Linked DNA regions of Homo sapiens: region 2 is linked to region 1. A link means that fine-mapping ties the variant in region 1 to the expression of a gene that starts in the linked region. Tissue or cell type: monocytes. Region 1 holds a variant in brackets; the other region holds the start of a gene. All regions are shown on one strand. Distances are between the middles of the regions.

Evidence for each region. PIP is the estimated chance that this variant, and not a neighbour inherited with it, causes the effect.
Region 2: it holds the start of MAF, and the variant in region 1 is fine-mapped to the expression of MAF in monocytes (TOPMed, PIP above 0.99). The same link has a PIP of 0.9 or more in whole blood.

What each region holds. Positions count from the first base shown.
Region 1 is chr16:79,468,159-79,476,266 of GRCh38, forward strand. It overlaps a transcript of MAF not described here. Among named protein-coding and RNA genes, the nearest start is that of MAF, 130 kb to the right of the region's middle. The variant A/G (reference allele first, on the strand shown) is at 4,492.
Region 2 is chr16:79,596,315-79,604,422 of GRCh38, forward strand. It overlaps MAF (MAF bZIP transcription factor), which reads right to left and starts at 4,423. Exons shown (of 2, transcript NM_005360.5): 1 at 2,471-4,423. The coding sequence starts at 3,588. LOC101928230 (a long non-coding RNA gene) reads left to right here and starts at 4,573. Exons shown (of 3, transcript NR_188556.1): 1 at 4,573-4,675; 2 at 5,733-6,036. RefSeq lists an enhancer at 4,338-4,632.

The sequences.
Region 1 (8,108 bases):
CTTCCCGGGCTGCAGAGGGCCCTGCACATACTCACGAGAAGGTACAGGTGAAATGGGGTGAGCTCCTGATTTATGACACCCACGGAGTCCCCAGCAGCCCAGGCGTCCAAGAAGTGCCTTCCCCTGTGTGATTTACTGCTGCCCTGGGCCGGCCAGACGGCACTGGGGGGATGCCCCTGCCTGTGTCCAGCCCTCAACTAAAATGCTGACTCTGCTTAGATCTCCTGGGTGAGAGGATTAGCACTTGGGGTGTCCTCATGGCAAATGTGTCCTCTGGAGGGAGCCAAGTCCGTGGAGGGTGGGAGACCTGCTCTTGTTTGGCCCGTCTGCTCTTGCCTCAAGAATGTATTTTGGTGTCAGTGAACGACTGCACCTGCTGTCCCAGAAACAGGTCTGGAGCAGCCCCAGCATGCTGCAGCCTCAGGGCAAACCTGGCCTTAACCTGCTCAGCCCCAGCTCACCCTGGGCAGGCCAGGGGTGTTGGCATTGAGGGGCAGTCAGAGTCTGCCAGGATGGTGCAGACAGTGGTAACGTGGCCCCCATGCCTGGGAAGTTTCAAATCCTTTGGGGTAGAGGAAGGGGGTGGCTGAGGATAAGATAATCCAGGGGGCAGAAAAGAAACCAGAGAAGCCAGAGAAGCTCCATGGAGCATTATAAATCACCCGGGCTATTCTTGTCCTTGGTCAGGAAGGCTACATGCAGGAGACCCTTCTAATGGCGACCTCTTGTACTTAATCCTCCTGCTTGCTTTGATTGCCTTCAATCAATCGTGGGCTCACACTTCCTTTTTAATAGCCATCTTCCATATAAAGAGTGATGTTGTTTGACAAGCAGATGTTTTGTAGAGGCTACAAGCTGTCCTTATGCTAGCAGGCATTTATTCCTTAGCCACCCCACACCCAATCATGTGTCCCAAGTGCCCAAGGGCCCAACTCATGCGTTCCTCTAAAGCAGAGGTTGCAAACTGGAGCCCTGCAAGCCCCATCCAGCCCACTGCCCATTTTTGTAAATACAGTTTTATTGGAACATAGCCATGACCGTTCATTTACATTGTATATGGCTGCTTTCATTCCTCAATGGCAGAGTTGAGCGGTTGCAACAGACAGTCTGGACCACAAAGCCAAAAATATTTAATATCTGTCCCTTTACAGAAAAAGTTTGCTGATTCTTACACTAAATAAATGGTGAGTGGTTAAAAACATAAGCTCGGGATTCAGACAGATCTTGTTTGATGACCAACTCTCCCGCCTATTACCTGGGTGGCTTTAAGCAAGTAGTTACCTCTCTGATCTCAATTTCCTCCTCTATAAGTAGAGATGATAAAATTGTCTACTTCATTGAACAGTATGAAGATGAAACAAATTACAACTGAAAAAATGGTCATTGCAGAGCTAGGTATTTTTATATGCAAGGTCTCATTTATTTATTTATTTATTTTTAATTTTTATTTTTTTCTGAGACAGAGTCTCACTCTGTTGCCCAGACTGGAGTGCAGTGGCGTGATCTCAGCTCACTGCAACCTCTACCTCCCAGGTTCAAGTGATTCTCCTGCCTCAGCCTCCTGAGTAGCTGGGATTACAGGTGCCCGCCACCTTGTCTGGCTAATTTTTGTATTTTTAGTAGAGACAGGGTTTCACAGTGTTGGTCAGGCTGGTCTCGAACTCCTGACCTCGTGATCCACCCACCTCGGCCTCCCAAAGTGCTGAGATTACAGGCTTGAGCCACCGCGCCTGGCCTACAGGGTCTCATTTAAACTCATAAACCACCTCATGACAGGGCACATTTTGTTCCCATTTTACAGACATAAGTTATCTTAAGTTTAGAAAAGTGAATAAGGATGGGAACATATAATCTCTACCTCGCTCAGAAACGTGCGGTCTGCTCCTTCTGCTCGCCATCCTCCAGGCTCTCAGGCCATGTCAGGCATTTGTAAAGAAAGACATTTCATCACAAGACCAACACTGGCATTTTTCCGGGATGTGCTTACATTTGGAACATGAAAAATGTCCCAATAGATCACATGAGCGGCGGAGATAGGAACTCTGGTTCTGAGGAAGTGGGAACTTCCTTGAAATGTCCCTTTCCTTTGTCCTCTGAACCCCAACACTTGCCCTGCTCGGATCCTTGCCAATGAGGACGCCCATCCGCCCTTTCCTGGCAAAGTTAGGGGATGGGTCCAGGGCAGGTCATGTTACTGAGCCCCCCCAGGGGCTCAGCTCAGAGGGCCCAGGGGACCAGGATGGCAACTAGGGCATGGCAGAAAGAGCTGCCCACTCCACTGTGGGCTAGAGAAACAGCTAGGGAAGCAAAAGGCCATGTACCAGCCCCCACCACAAGTTCCTGGAGGGCAGGTCCATATCTTCCAATGCAAATACAAATACTATTACTAAACAACAGCAGCCAACTCATTCAGGTACTGTGCTAAGCATATTTTATTTAGTTCTCATAGCAACCCAGTGGAACTTACTGGGTATTATTCTTCCCATTTATCAGCTGAGAAAACTGAGACTTAAAGAGTTTAAGAATTGGCTTCATGTACTACAGGAAAGACAGCCAGGATTCCATTGTCCAACACGATGCTGGGGCCATAGAAGGCACTCCCTCTTGAATCTGTTGAATGGGTGGATGGATGGGTGAACGGATGAATGGATGACTGAAGTTTAGCTGACGCCAGAACTAGTGTGTTTTACTGCTATTTGTCACCATTTCTCATCCATCTCTGTATCCCAAGAACCTGATGCAGTGAGAGGCACTCAAATTATTCAGTTAACTGGAAAAGAATGAATAAAGTATCTTATATAATGCATGGAAGATGGTAGCAATGAAAGCTACCATCATCGTCATGTTCATATCACATCACCTCCCACCCTAGTCTTCACCATCATTCTTGCAGATGTGTGTTTAATTACCAGGTCCATGCCATCTTTTAGGTACACATTTGCTGGACTTTCCTACCTGGCCTGCCTTCCTGCTGACCACTCCCACGCCTGTGGAGGAAGGAGGCATACCTGCAGGGTAAGATGGAGAGGCAGAAGGAGCAAGTTCCTGTGCTTTACAGCAGAGCTTCTCTACCCATTAATCTGCTTACTTTTTTCCTTATCTTACAGATACAAAACATCTAAGCAGTCATGAAGAGCACGACAGAACCCTCAACTCCAAATTCTCAGCACTCCCTGTTATTTTTTCACACTTTCCAGATGTAAAAAACTAAGGTTTAGGCAGAGCACAATGGCTCATGCCTATAATCTCAGCACTTTGGGAGGCCAAGGCAGGCAGATTGCTTGAGCCCAGGAGTTACAGCTCAGGCTGGGCAACATGTCTTTTGTAAAGACAGGCTAACTCCTGTCTCTAGAAAAAAACCCACAAAAATTAGTTGGGCATGGTGGTGCACACCTGTAGTTCCAGGTGCTAGGGCGGCTGAGGTAGGAGGATGGCTCCAGCCCTGGAAGCAGAGGTTGCAGTGAGCTGAGATCATGCCATTGCACTCCAGCCTGGGCATCACGGCAAGGCACTGTCTCAGAAATGCAAACAAACAAAAAAACCCAAACAAGTAAAAAAGCCCTGAGGTTTGCTGATGTCATAGTGTTTGCCTAGGACAGCTGATAAGTGGTCATGTCAGGAATGTCACTATATAGGTAATCCAATTTCTTCTTTATTGATCTGTATTATCAAATTTTCCATAATGGGTACAATAACAATTATTGTTAGAAGAAAAAACTTTTACCAGGTGATATGAGTGACATCACTGACAACTTTGGGGAAAATGGCCTTGCTAAGTGCAGACATGCTTTCTCCCTCATGCGTAAGACAAAGTGTAGCTTTCTAGTTAGGAAAGACTCCACAGCAATTTTTCCTTGCTTCTCCCCTAATGCTGCAGGCCTTGGCTTCAGCCTGACCTCTCTTTCCCTCTCTTTCCTTTGCTCTGGAATGGTTTACAAGGAGCCACCATATGTAAGCATCTAGATCAGATTTTATGGAAATATTTAGATGACTCAAATCCCCAGTCAACCCTCAAGCAGCTCAAAGGCTGATAATGGAGAGAAGAATAAATATATTACAGGGCTAAATTGACAAAATGCCATTAGAGACCCAGCAATTCCACTCCTGGGAATCTACCCAAGAGAAATGAAGATTCGTGTCTACATAAAGACTTCTATGTGAATTCACTCATAAAGACATTATTCATAATAATCAAAAAGTAGAAATATCCCGAATGTCCATCAACTACTAAAGGGATACCCAAGATATGTTCTATCCATACAATGGAATACTATTCCATAATCAAAAGAACAAAATACAAATGCATGCCACATCAGGGGGAAACCTCGAAAAGATATACTAAGTGAAAGAAGCCAGGTACAAAGAGCAATGTTGTATGATTCCATCTCTTTAAAATGTCCACTGTAGGCAAATTTATACAGACAGGAAGTAGATGAGTGGTTGCCTAGGGCTTGGAGGCAGAGAAGAAATGGGGAGTGACTGTTCATGGGT[A/G]TGGAGTTTCCTTCTAGGGTGTAGAAATGTTCTAAAATTAGAGTAGGGCGATGGTTGTACAACTCTATACATATACAAAAGCCCATTAAATGTCACACTTTAAATTGGTGAATTTTATAGTAATGTATATAAATTGTACGTCAATAATGTTAGAAAAGAAGGAAAGAAAGAGAGAAAGAAAGAAAAAACCCTGCCATGGAGAGGGAACAAGCAGTAAAAGAGCATGAGTTCCTGTCCTGGAGAGATTTGGGTAGTCAGTGATTGAATGGGTGTGTACCGAGGCCCGGTACCATATGGCGCACCAGCCAGTGTGAACACAACACAATTCTGTCCTATGGAGCTTACATTCTGGTGGGAAGGACTGACGCTAAGCAAATAAATGTACAGACTACAGGTTGTGATAAGGGGAACGAAGAAAAGTAGAGTGAGGGGACATGGAACTGGGGATGCCTTTTTTGATGGTGTCGATGGCCATCTGGTCGTTCACACCCCTGGCTCAGCGTAGGGATAGTCCAGACACATCGTGGGAGGAACAGCCACAGGCAGTCATATCCTCTGTGGAGGGGGAGGGAGTCCTCATTTCTCTTTGCAGGTCCCAGATGTCTGCATGCCCACAAAAGGAATGAATGGAGGAACTCTCTCAAGATGCCAAAATCCACGGTGGCAACCCAGGCATTTAATATAACAATGATTGTTCCAGGAACTTCACTCCTTTTAACAATTCAGGGTCCGTCCTAGAGGAGTGGGGCTACCTCTGGGCCTCTTGCAGCAGGAAGGACACAATCATAGCCTCTCATGGGTGCAAACAGCAAGCGGATGTTGCCCTTTGCAAACAGTTGGGAAAACCATAAAAAATGCACAGCCTTTGCCAAACAATGTCAGATAAAATGGCATGGAGAGAGGACACATCTACCAGCCTCCTACCCACTGCACGATTCAGGGCATGCAGACCTCAGCCTCTCTCCTGAGTTCAGCACTCCAGAGCAGGCTGTGGAAAGGGCACGGGGTGAGCATGTCTTTATGACATTATTGATTTATTCTCCACCTGCAGTTAAAAACCATGCCCAGACAGACAATAAAAATAAGTACTTAACCGTATCGCAAGCTCTGCCGACTGAAATGGATTTTACACTTAAAGATACAGCTGATCTGGGTGAGGGCTTTAATGGCACTTTTGAGTTTTAAATTTAAAAAAAATCAAATCTTTGGAAAAATTAAATGAGAAATCATCAGTGTTGCCCTTTGTGGGATTCTTCTCATAACGTCTCCAGGCTCAAGGGATTGGGGGTTATGGTTTATAAAGTGGTCGAGTGGGGAGGAATTACGGCAGGTAGTTTATTTAGTAGGGATGAGCATTCTTATGTCTATAAGGAAAGGGAGAGGGCAAAAGACAGAGGGCACAGGAGAGAGGAAGATGGATAATCTCCTAGAAGGAAAGAGGCAGGGGAGAGGAAGAAATGATGAGGAAATAGGAGAAGGAATAGAAGGAGGTGGAGGGATAACCTAGAATTATTTGTGGTCTTTAAATTAAAGCTCAAGGGCTACCCCCTCCTCCAAATCTCTCTACATGGCATAGAAGAAAATGATCCTGCTGGAAACCTTAACGCATTTTGTATTCGCCTCTTTGGGGGAAATTATCCTTGCCTGGTTGTACTATTACCATTTATAAAAATGCCTATCTCCCCTGCAAAGGGCAGAAATCATGCTTGATGAATCCACATATTTCTATCCCTCATATGTATTAAATGGTGAGAGATGGCTGAGCAAGTGCCTGGCTGGCTGGGCAGACAGACAAGCCAGCAAGGGTGGATGTTAAAATCCGAGGCAAGGGGAAGGGAATGGTGTGGGCTCAGGTGCTTTCTGCCAAGCCCAGCATGCTTGCTTTCGATCCCCATAAAAGGCTGATAAGGTTGGGCTAGGAGACGTGCAGGGAGAGCCTCAGGTGTTAATATAAATGGGTTCAAATCACAGCGTTGGAATCTGTCTGTCTGATACCTCATTCTTTTTCTTTTTTTGTCCCATCTGGATGCCACACTCCTTCTTGTTGAATATTTATTTTTTGCTGGTGAAGGAGGAAATCCTTGAGCATGAGCATGACCCAGACCTACTTTTTGGAGGCAAGAAGGGACCATCCCATGTCAGGAAATCAAGGATAAGATTCCTCCTCACCCCCATTCTGAGCCATGTCTAGAGCCTGTTGCCATCACTGTATCAGGAGAGATCTAAAAGCAAAGGAGTGTGATTCACCATCATCTAATTCAAATACACATCCTAGCAACTAGAAATGTGTGCATTAATCCAACAGAGATCAAAGAACCTCCCATGCTTTGTAGACACTGTGCTGGTAGCAGAAGATGTTCATTCTGTCTATCGCTAACAGTAAGGCAGTGCACACATGGCCTTGGCCTCACCAGGCATCCCGACCAAAGCGCTTCTGGAAGCCTCCTCTCCAGGGCTTGTGCAGCTCAGCAGTGTCCCTTCTCTTTGCCTTTGTGGCATCTCATAATAAACACAAACTCGAGTTTAGAAGAATTGGAAGGAAGATTAACAATTATCCGTTGCTAACACTCTGCCAGGTATGGTCCTAGGTACTTCCTAGAATTAGCTTTAAAATAAAATAAGAAAAAATATATATATTATTAATTAATTCTCAGACCCACATATATATGTGCATATATATATGGAGATATATATATATATGTATGTATATATATGTGTGTGTGTGTGTGTGTGTATGCAAGAAAGAAGTAGATTTGGGAGGCAAATCCAGGTCTATGTCCAGGATCTTAAACGAACAATGCACTTCACTCTTTCAAATATCCATGTACACTTTATATATTTTCAAATGTCTGTGTATATTTTCTGCCTGTCTATCGATCTATCTATCCATCTGTCTGTCTGTCTATATGGCTCTGAGTAGGAAGGAACATGAAAGAATTTCCTGGGGGAGATGGAGATGGAAATATTTTAACTATTCATAAGGGTGTGGGTTATGTGGGGCTCATTTCTTTGTCAAAATTGGGCAGCTAAGATTTGTGCATTTCAATGTATATAAATTTCACCTTAAAATCTGTAAAAATGAATAAGGATTAAGTGGGGGTGTGGAGTGAAGCAAGAATGGCAGAATGACAACCATTCTTAAAGCTGTGTGATGAGTTCATGAGGGTTTGTTACACTTGTTGCAGGCAGAATCCTAAGACGACCCCTGTGTGGCCTGTGCTCTTGTAAAATCTCTTTCCCTTGAGTGGGGTCAGGGCCTGTGAATATGATGGGATATTATTCCTGTGATTATGTTACATTAGATAGAAAAGGTGCAGGGATATTTTTCAAATGTAATCAAGGTCCCTAATCAGTTCGACTTAATCAAAAGGGAGATGATCCTAGGTGGGCCTGACCTAACCAGGTGATGGCTTGGAAGAGAATTTAAGCTTCCCCGAACTCTGAGACTCAAAGCAGCAGAAACTTTCTCTTGCTGGCCTCAAAGAATTAAGCCTCCATGAGTTTTTAGCTGGAAGGGAGTTCTGTCAATAACCACGTGAGCTTAGAAAAAGACCTGGAGCCAGAGATGAGACCCTCTTGATTGCAACCTTGTGAGTCCCTGGCCAGGGAACACAGGT
Region 2 (8,108 bases), 130 kb after region 1:
TGGGGCCAGCCTCCTCACTTCAAAAAACAGCCTATAATTTCACCCTGAATTACTGTCTCCCTATTCCTCCAGGAATCCTTCCACTGGAGAAAAGGATGCATTTTACACTTTTAACGAGGTTGTTGGGCCCAGTTAAACTGTACACTAAGAAACTGAGTACAGAATCAAAAAAAAATGCCGTTTATTATTGTAGATTATTCTTTTCTTGATATAACCAGAATTGAAAATGAAAGAAAAGCACATAGGAACAACACGCGTGGTTAGTTAGTAACTCAAGATATAAAACAATTTTGCACAGCAAAATATGTAAAAGAAAAGTAACTGACAAGATTTTTTTATATTTATTGTGGTAAGATTTACTTTTCATTTCTTTTTAAAGACAGGATGTCAGTCCCTGAAAATAACATTTACTGATTATTGCCTTTAAAACTGTGGATTTTTTTTTAAGTTACAGAAAATCCAGTTCTGCACCACAATACAACTGTAAAAAAATCTGCATCATCTTAAAACTGTGCAGTAATGCCATTTTTATAACTGCATAAATTTTATTAGCGTTCTAAACAGTTTTGCAATTTTTTTTTGTATTATATGCTTGCAGGTTATATCTTAGTGCAATTCAGTCCCAAATACTTTAATTTTGAAAAGAAAAAAAAACATACATTTTTGAATGTAAAATACCCCTACAGATATAAACAGGGGCGTTTCCCCTCTTAATACTTTGGTTTTCAATACAGTCAGTGGTATAGCAAAGACTACACATACCCAACTTATATTTAAGTTGCAAGCACATGCTGTATAAGCTACTTTTTTTAAACAGTCCCCTTGCAAACTCTACCCCCCTTAACATCACAATAGTAAACAATTTAGTGCATCAATCGTTTAAAAAATCTACAGCTAAACAGACCTAACTCTTTCAAATTTATCTATAACATTCCTTTATCTGTAGCATACATTTTAACTGGGCTAACAGATTATAAAAACTAGAATTAAATTATATACTAGAAACCCAGAGCATTCCACATTTGACAATGACCAAAAGCCAAAAAATATAAAATAAAAATAAAACAAACCAAAAATAATGGGGCAGTTTCTCTTTTTAAAAAATAAATTTTAGACTGCTTCTCGGCAATAGCACAATTTTAGTCCCCAAAGTGGGGCGTCATTCTTATTAAAAAGAAAACATTAAGAGTTCTTCAATGTTTGCCAGGTTAAATGTGTAACCCATTCTGGTATCTTTGACAAGGAATGCCTTCAGTGCATTGGGAGGTTGAAGTTCTGAGTAACTCAAAGCAGTTTTGGAGCAGATGCAAAATTTCATGGGAAGAAGGCTCTACGGTTGCACTGTTTTGTTCTAAACTCAAAAAAGTCATGAGGCAATAAAACAAAAGTATGAATGCCATGCTATAAGTCTTCGAACGTCCATTTCCAAGCCAAAAGGAAAAAAAAAGGAAAAAATAATTATACCATACATGTCCAGCATGCAGGCTTTTTTTTTTTATTAATATAATGTCTCTTTTCCATAAAGTCTTTGAAACAGTTATAGTTCATTGTTGCTAAGACAAAGTAGCAAGCATAATAATGCATGAGATGAGAATGAGTTTTTTTAATGGCAGACTAAACTCTCAGATTTGGCATCACAAGGCCAAAACTCACAAGTCACACCCAGAAGGTTGATGCAGGCTTGATTGTGGAAGGTTCATGAGGATTTTTTTCTCTATTTTAGCATAACAATGCTAAAAAAAAAACCCGATGGAACTCGGCACGCTGCAAGTCTATAACATTTCACATTTTTTTTTCCTTTGCAAGCTCAATCTCACATGAAGAACTCAGGAGAAGAAAAAAAAACTTTGCTTTTTTTTTTCTTTCATCTCGGAAGAGATGGGTTGAGAAGGAGTGAGGGTGGAGGTTGGAAAAAAGGTGGGCAACACAGCAAGCTCTAAAAGTAAAATTAAAAAAAAAAATCCAAACAAAATAAAACACACACACACACAGAAAATGAACACCAGTTCATGAACTGAAGGGGAAGAAGAAGAAAAAATATGTGAATGATGCAGGCTTCAAAGGTGATCAACGTTTCACATGAAGAACTCTGCTGAGATCATTGAACATTGTGCAAGTCCGGGGGTGGGGCGGGGGGGTGTAAAAAAAAAAAAAAAACAAGCTAGCAAGTTATGGAGAATTTCAGATTGGCAATCCATGAGCCAGACACCCATTCCCTCCCCAGTTTAAAACAGCCACCACCACCACAAACTCGAGCAGGGTGTGGGGTGTGTGTGTGTGTGTGTGTGTGTGTGTGGTGTGTGCGTGCGGGTTTGTGTGTGTGTAGGGGGCCAAGGGGGCCAAACTCGGTGGGGGTGGGGGTGGTGAGGTGGTGGCGAGCATGGCTCTAGAACTAGCAAGCCCACACCCGAGCCGGACCCCCGCGGAGCACTTATCAGGGTGGCTAGCTGGAATCGCGTGTCAGACTCACATGAAAAACTCGGGAGAGGACGGGTTGTCGCTGCTCGAGCCGTTTTCTCGGAAGCCGCTGCTCACCAACTTCTCGTATTTCTCCTTGTACGCGTCCCTCTCGCGCACCAGCCTGGAGATCTCCTGCTTGAGGTGGTCGACTTGCTGCAGCAGCTGGTTCTTCTCCGACTCCAGGACGTGTCTCTGCTGCACCCTCTTGAAGCGGCAGGACTGGGCATAGCCGCGGTTTTTCAGGGTCCGCCTCTTCTGCTTCAGCCGGATCACCTCCTCCTTGCTGACCCCGCGCAGCTGCCGGTTCAGCTCGCGCACAGACATGGTCACCAGCTGCTCGTCGGAGAAGCGGTCGTCGAAGTGCAGGCCGCCGGCGGCGTGGTGCGGGTGCAGGGCGCCCCCCGCCCCCGCCGCGCCCCCGCCGCCTCCGCCGCCGCCGCCGCCGCCGCCGCCCCCAGCGCTGGCCGGGCCACCGCCGCCCGCGCCCCCAGCGCCACCGGCCGAGGCGGCCGCGCTGCCCGCGGCGCCGGGCGCGCCGGCCGTCGGGTGGTGGTGGTGGCCGGCGGCGTGGTGGTGGTGGTGGTGGTAGTGCGGGCCCGCGCCGCTCTGCGCGGCGGCCGCGGCGATCACGGCGGACACCACGGCGGCGGCGGGGCCCATCTCCTCGCCGCTGCCGCCCAAGGAGGCGCCGGCACCGGCCCCGGCCGCCGCGGCCAGCTGCTGCGCCCCGCGCGCGTAGCCATCGAAGCCGCCCTGGAGCTGGTGGCTGTTGCTGATGAGCGCCTCGACCGCGTCCTCGGGGCTGAAGCCCAGCGCCTCGGGGTTCAGCTGCTGCGGGTAGCCGGTCATCCAGTAGTAGTCTTCCAGGTGCGCCTTCTGCTCGCTGCCCGAGCCCGGGCTGGGCGCCGAGAAGCTGGGGGAAGGGGGCACCGAGCTGCACGGCGTGCTCATGGGGGTGGAGGACAGCGAGCCCCCGGCGATGAGACGGCCGCACTGGCTGATGATGCGGTCGGTCTCCACCGGTTCCTTTTTCACTTCAAACTTCATCAGATCGAAGTCATTAACATATTCCATGGCCAGGGGACTGGTGGGCAGGTCGGAGTTGCTCATTGCCAGTTCTGATGCCATTCTCCTGCCGCCGCCGCCGCCGCCGCCGCCGCTCCGCCAGATGGGCTGCAGGAGAGGGGCCAGCGGGCTGTGCTGGGTGGCCAGCGGGTGAGCCAGCTTGCCGGGCTGGGGCGCTTCTAGCTTGCGCGGCGGTGGCTGGCCCGAAACCTCCGAGCGCGCTCACACACACACCCCCCCGCCCTGCCCGCGCCCCCCGCGCCCGCCCTCCCTCCCCCCTGCTCACGCCAATGTGCTCCCTCGCTCGCCCCGGCCCCTCCTTGCTCGCTCGCCTCCTTGCGCGCCGAGCCGGCGGCTTCAGGCTCGGGAAGATCCTCCGCGAGCTGCGGTGGCGGCGGTGGTGGCTGCGGCGGCGAAGCTGGAGGAGCCCGGCCCGGTGCGCGGCGTCCCCCGCTCGCCGCTCCGCTGCGCGCTTTGCATAAGGAAGGGCTCGCCTCGCCGGCCCGGGCTGCAGGCAGGGCGCGCGCGGCGTCCGCTCGGGGCTGGAGGCGCGGCGGGCGTCTGTCCGGGCGGCGCGGGCCTTGGCACGGGGGAGTTAACACTTCATGCTTCTCGCCTCCTCTTCTGCTTGGCTCTCTTTATTATTTTTTTTCTTTCCTCTCTCTCCCTCGCGCGCTCTCTACCTCTGTGCAAAGTGCAAGGCAGAGGTGCAGCCCGACTGGAGGAGAGGGAGGGGGGAGTTTAGTTCTTTCTTGCCTTTTTTTAAAAAAGCAAAATAGCGAAGTCCTGGGGAAAGACGAGGCAGAGAGCAAAGGGGGGAGGGGGAGGCCAAGCCGACAAGCAGCCCGAGCTACAGCTAGAAGATGAAAAAAGATTTTAAAGCCTCTGATCCAGCAAGAAGAGTTTAAAGCAATTGCTGAGTTTTATAGCACTCGTGACGTCAGGTCCAAATGAGAAATTGACTGGCACTCCGGGCCAATGGGAGGCGGCGAGAGCGGCCGCGATTAGCATAATAGTATAGAAACAAGGAAACTTTTCGGAGCTGTCAATCAGGGCCCAATCAGCTGACTGTCAGCTGGGACGGGCTGGCTTAACCCTTCCTGCGCCGCTGCCTACCCGGGAGGGAACGAGGCCCGGCGCAAAGTTTGGTGTAAGAGGGGAAGGAGTTTTTCCAGAGGGGCTTCGGCAATCCGGGCGGACCTGGGAGGGCGGTTTGCTTTTCTTTGGAGCGCGAGACAGGCCTCCCATCCGGAGCCCCAGCTCGCTGGGGGCTCACTCGGCTGGGATTGGCCTGATTCCCCTCCCCTGCCTGCCCTCCACCCCCAGGATTGTGAATTCGCCTCCCAGCTTTTCCTCCTCGCACCAACTCTGGTACCCAGGTGTCTGCCGGGGACCTTCCTTCCCTGAGCCTGGCCGTGCCCGGCGCTCAAACTTGGCCCCAACTCTTTGTCCGTCTCTCGGGCGCCCGTGCGGGGAAGGGACCGGGAAGGGAGGGATGCAGTGGGGTGTCCGGATCGGGGCTGCGGGCTGGGCGCCGCCCGGCCATGCGCCTGCCCAGAAGGCTGGGCATCCGTGGAGAGGGAAAGCCCATTTTATCCCTCTCTTTACAACGAGGTAAAATAAGTTGTTTAGAGGCCATTCTTCACGGAGACCGGCTGCCCGCTGGCGTCGCGTGCCCTTGGACAGAGCGAGCGCCTATGCGAGATAACTCCGGGGAAGCTCAAAGTCAGGTCAGCCGGGCTCAGCCTTCCGGCTCCTGACTGGCCGGAGTTTGGCCTTTGAGACTCATATTGCGCGCTCGCTCTCTCTCTCTCTTACACACACACACACAAACACACACACACTCACACTCACCCGTCCCCTTACGAAATCTGACCTCTGTTTATCAGGGTCAGGCGCGCCCTTTGCACTTTTACGTTTCCTTTAATTATTTCGGACTTGATCGTGGCAGGGAGCAAGGGGGAAAAACAATACCCCAGCCCTCACCAGCTACCCTCGAAGGGTTAAATTTTAAACCGCGGTTTCTGGAACTAGTCCGGAAACGCAGAGTGGGGGGTGGGGTGGGGGAGGCTGCTCCCCCCACCCCCAGTTGCAAATGCTAATAAGTAGTTCAAATTTCTAGATTGATTCTCTAAAAGTTTATGCAAAAAAGAAATAAAAAAGAAAAAGAAAAAAGAAGGAAACCAACAACTAACTCTGTTTCTAAGATTTTAAAGCGATAGGCAAGTCGAAGAAGCAGAGATTTATTTGGAGAGAAAGCTCCTGAAACCGACCCAGCCTTTGGAAGACCAGCCCGTCTGCTTAGAAGTTGGGACTGTTGATTCCTTCAATTAATGAAATGCATTTGGTGTTTTTAATCGTATTTATTTTACTTTATGAGAAGGGGGAGACGCTAGGAGGGTGCATTAAAAAAAAAAAAAAATTCTGAAAAGCCTGCAAAAGGATCGAAGAGTGGAAACTATTGTTGGAGCGAGTTGGTTTTTACCTCAACAGCGCCACCTTTCGGCAAAGGTCAGTTGAAATTGATCCGTGTCCAGTTTTGTCGATGAAGTGAAAAGCAGCTGGTTACCCAGTGTGGGAGGAGGAAAGAGACACACAAAGTTAGTTTGACTGAAGTGGGAGAACCCGACCCTATAGGAAAGGGGCCGAAGAAAGTGCTGGCAGATGCAGAGATCATTTTTGCCCCTCCTCTTCTCCTTGATTGTTGACAAAGAGGCCAGGGGATACAGACACCCTCGGGGTGTAATTTCTGGCTGAGACCTTTGCAAGAGGATCCCCATGTAACAGGGCCCCAAACCCTTTAAAAGTGCCAGGATGGATTTTCAACGGGCTTTATGGCAATATCAATAGGATTAAAGTTACTTGTAATTCAGTGATAAATGAGATGTCTCTAGTAAGTAAGATTAAGTGCAGTGCTATAAAGTTGTTTATCTGGAAAGTAATTCTCAGAAAACCTGACTTCTGACACTTAGTCATATATTAAGCCAGCGTCTTGAACATTGCACTTCAGAATGGTCTTCCCCACCCCGCAGCATGCTTTGCTATTTATAACCTCAGGTGTCTCTCACTCGTTCCTTGCACCATATTAGACCTGTGTTAATTTCTCTGATCCTAGTAGACTTCAGTTTCAGCAAACCCAGGAATCCTTAATGGAAGACTTCCCAAAAGATTCGTAGGCACACCCTAATCTGAAAAGGGCAGCGCTGTCGGTATTTTTCAGACAAGTAGTGTTTCTTTTCATCGTGACTGCAGAGAAGTTGTTAATAAGGGTAGTTTTGGTCTTATAAGAGCATTTTGTTGGGTGGAATAAACTATGTCTATTACCAGTTTGGGGAAGAAAGAGTGAAGATTATGTCAATATTTATGCAACCTAGCAGAATTCCCTTGCTTTCCTTCTCTTTAACAATATTTTCCCTAGTAATGAAGTTAAGGGATTATAGTTTATTTAGAGGAAAATCCACACTTTCCATTACATAAGCATTATGTCATTTAACATTGCCCGTAACAATAGTTTTCTAGGTCTTTTTAAAAGTCAGTAGTCACAAATGTAGGAAGTTTATATTTTTCATGTAAAATATGAATTTAAGTGTATTTAGAAAGAATTTATTGTTTGTTTATGATATACTTTTAATCCTTTTGCATCATATTTGTGTTAAAAGCTGTAAGGTATGATCATTGCCTCTGAAAGCAGTATTATAATAAATAATAAATAATATTTTATACACAAAGTTTGCTAATGATGAAGACTGTGCCATACACATTCATGGCTGAGTATCTAATTGTTACATTGTTATATATCATTTCTAGAAATTAAATGCCCATGTTTGGGCAGCTAAATATATTATTATCTGCACATTTTTATGGTTTATTTATGTACACTGCTGTGAAGACATGGTATTTTTATTTCTCTTATTGCAAGGTCTTTTATAGTCGCCCATTTTCTCTTGGAAAAAAAAAAGAGAGGATCAGAATTATTTTTTTAGATGTGTAGCAGTAATGCTCTCAGGCTTATAACTTAATTCTCATTTTTATCCTTTTTACATTATTATTTAGTGATTCACAGGGGTGTCTAAACATTTACAGTTCTCTGTTAGCAGCATTTCTTTTATAACAATTGAGCTCTCTCATTTTAATGAGTACTATTCAGGTTTTTGATTCTGTACAATTACAGTGGGCCACATGTCTTTAGACTTCTTTGCTAACATTGTTTGTTTCACTTCTATCCAAGCCAATCTAATCCAAATACAATGTGAACTGTGTTTTCTTACTGCTTAACATCCCCTTGCTATATATACTCTAGTAATCTCTGTAGAACAATATACAGTAATTTAGAAACCATGCATTTGTCATTATTGACCAATTCGGACCAGTAGTATTAAAGTTTTTGAAAGCAATGAATATTTATAGGAGATTTGTGAGGGGGAGGAGGACATGGGTTACATCGCATAGAATATTGTGACACAGTAACATCAGAAACACAATTATAGTTTCACGTCAGTACATACATAATGACTTCATGCAAAAATGAAAAACAAAACCCCTGTTCATGTCCAAATTACAAAGATTAAAAGCTTAAAGGAATA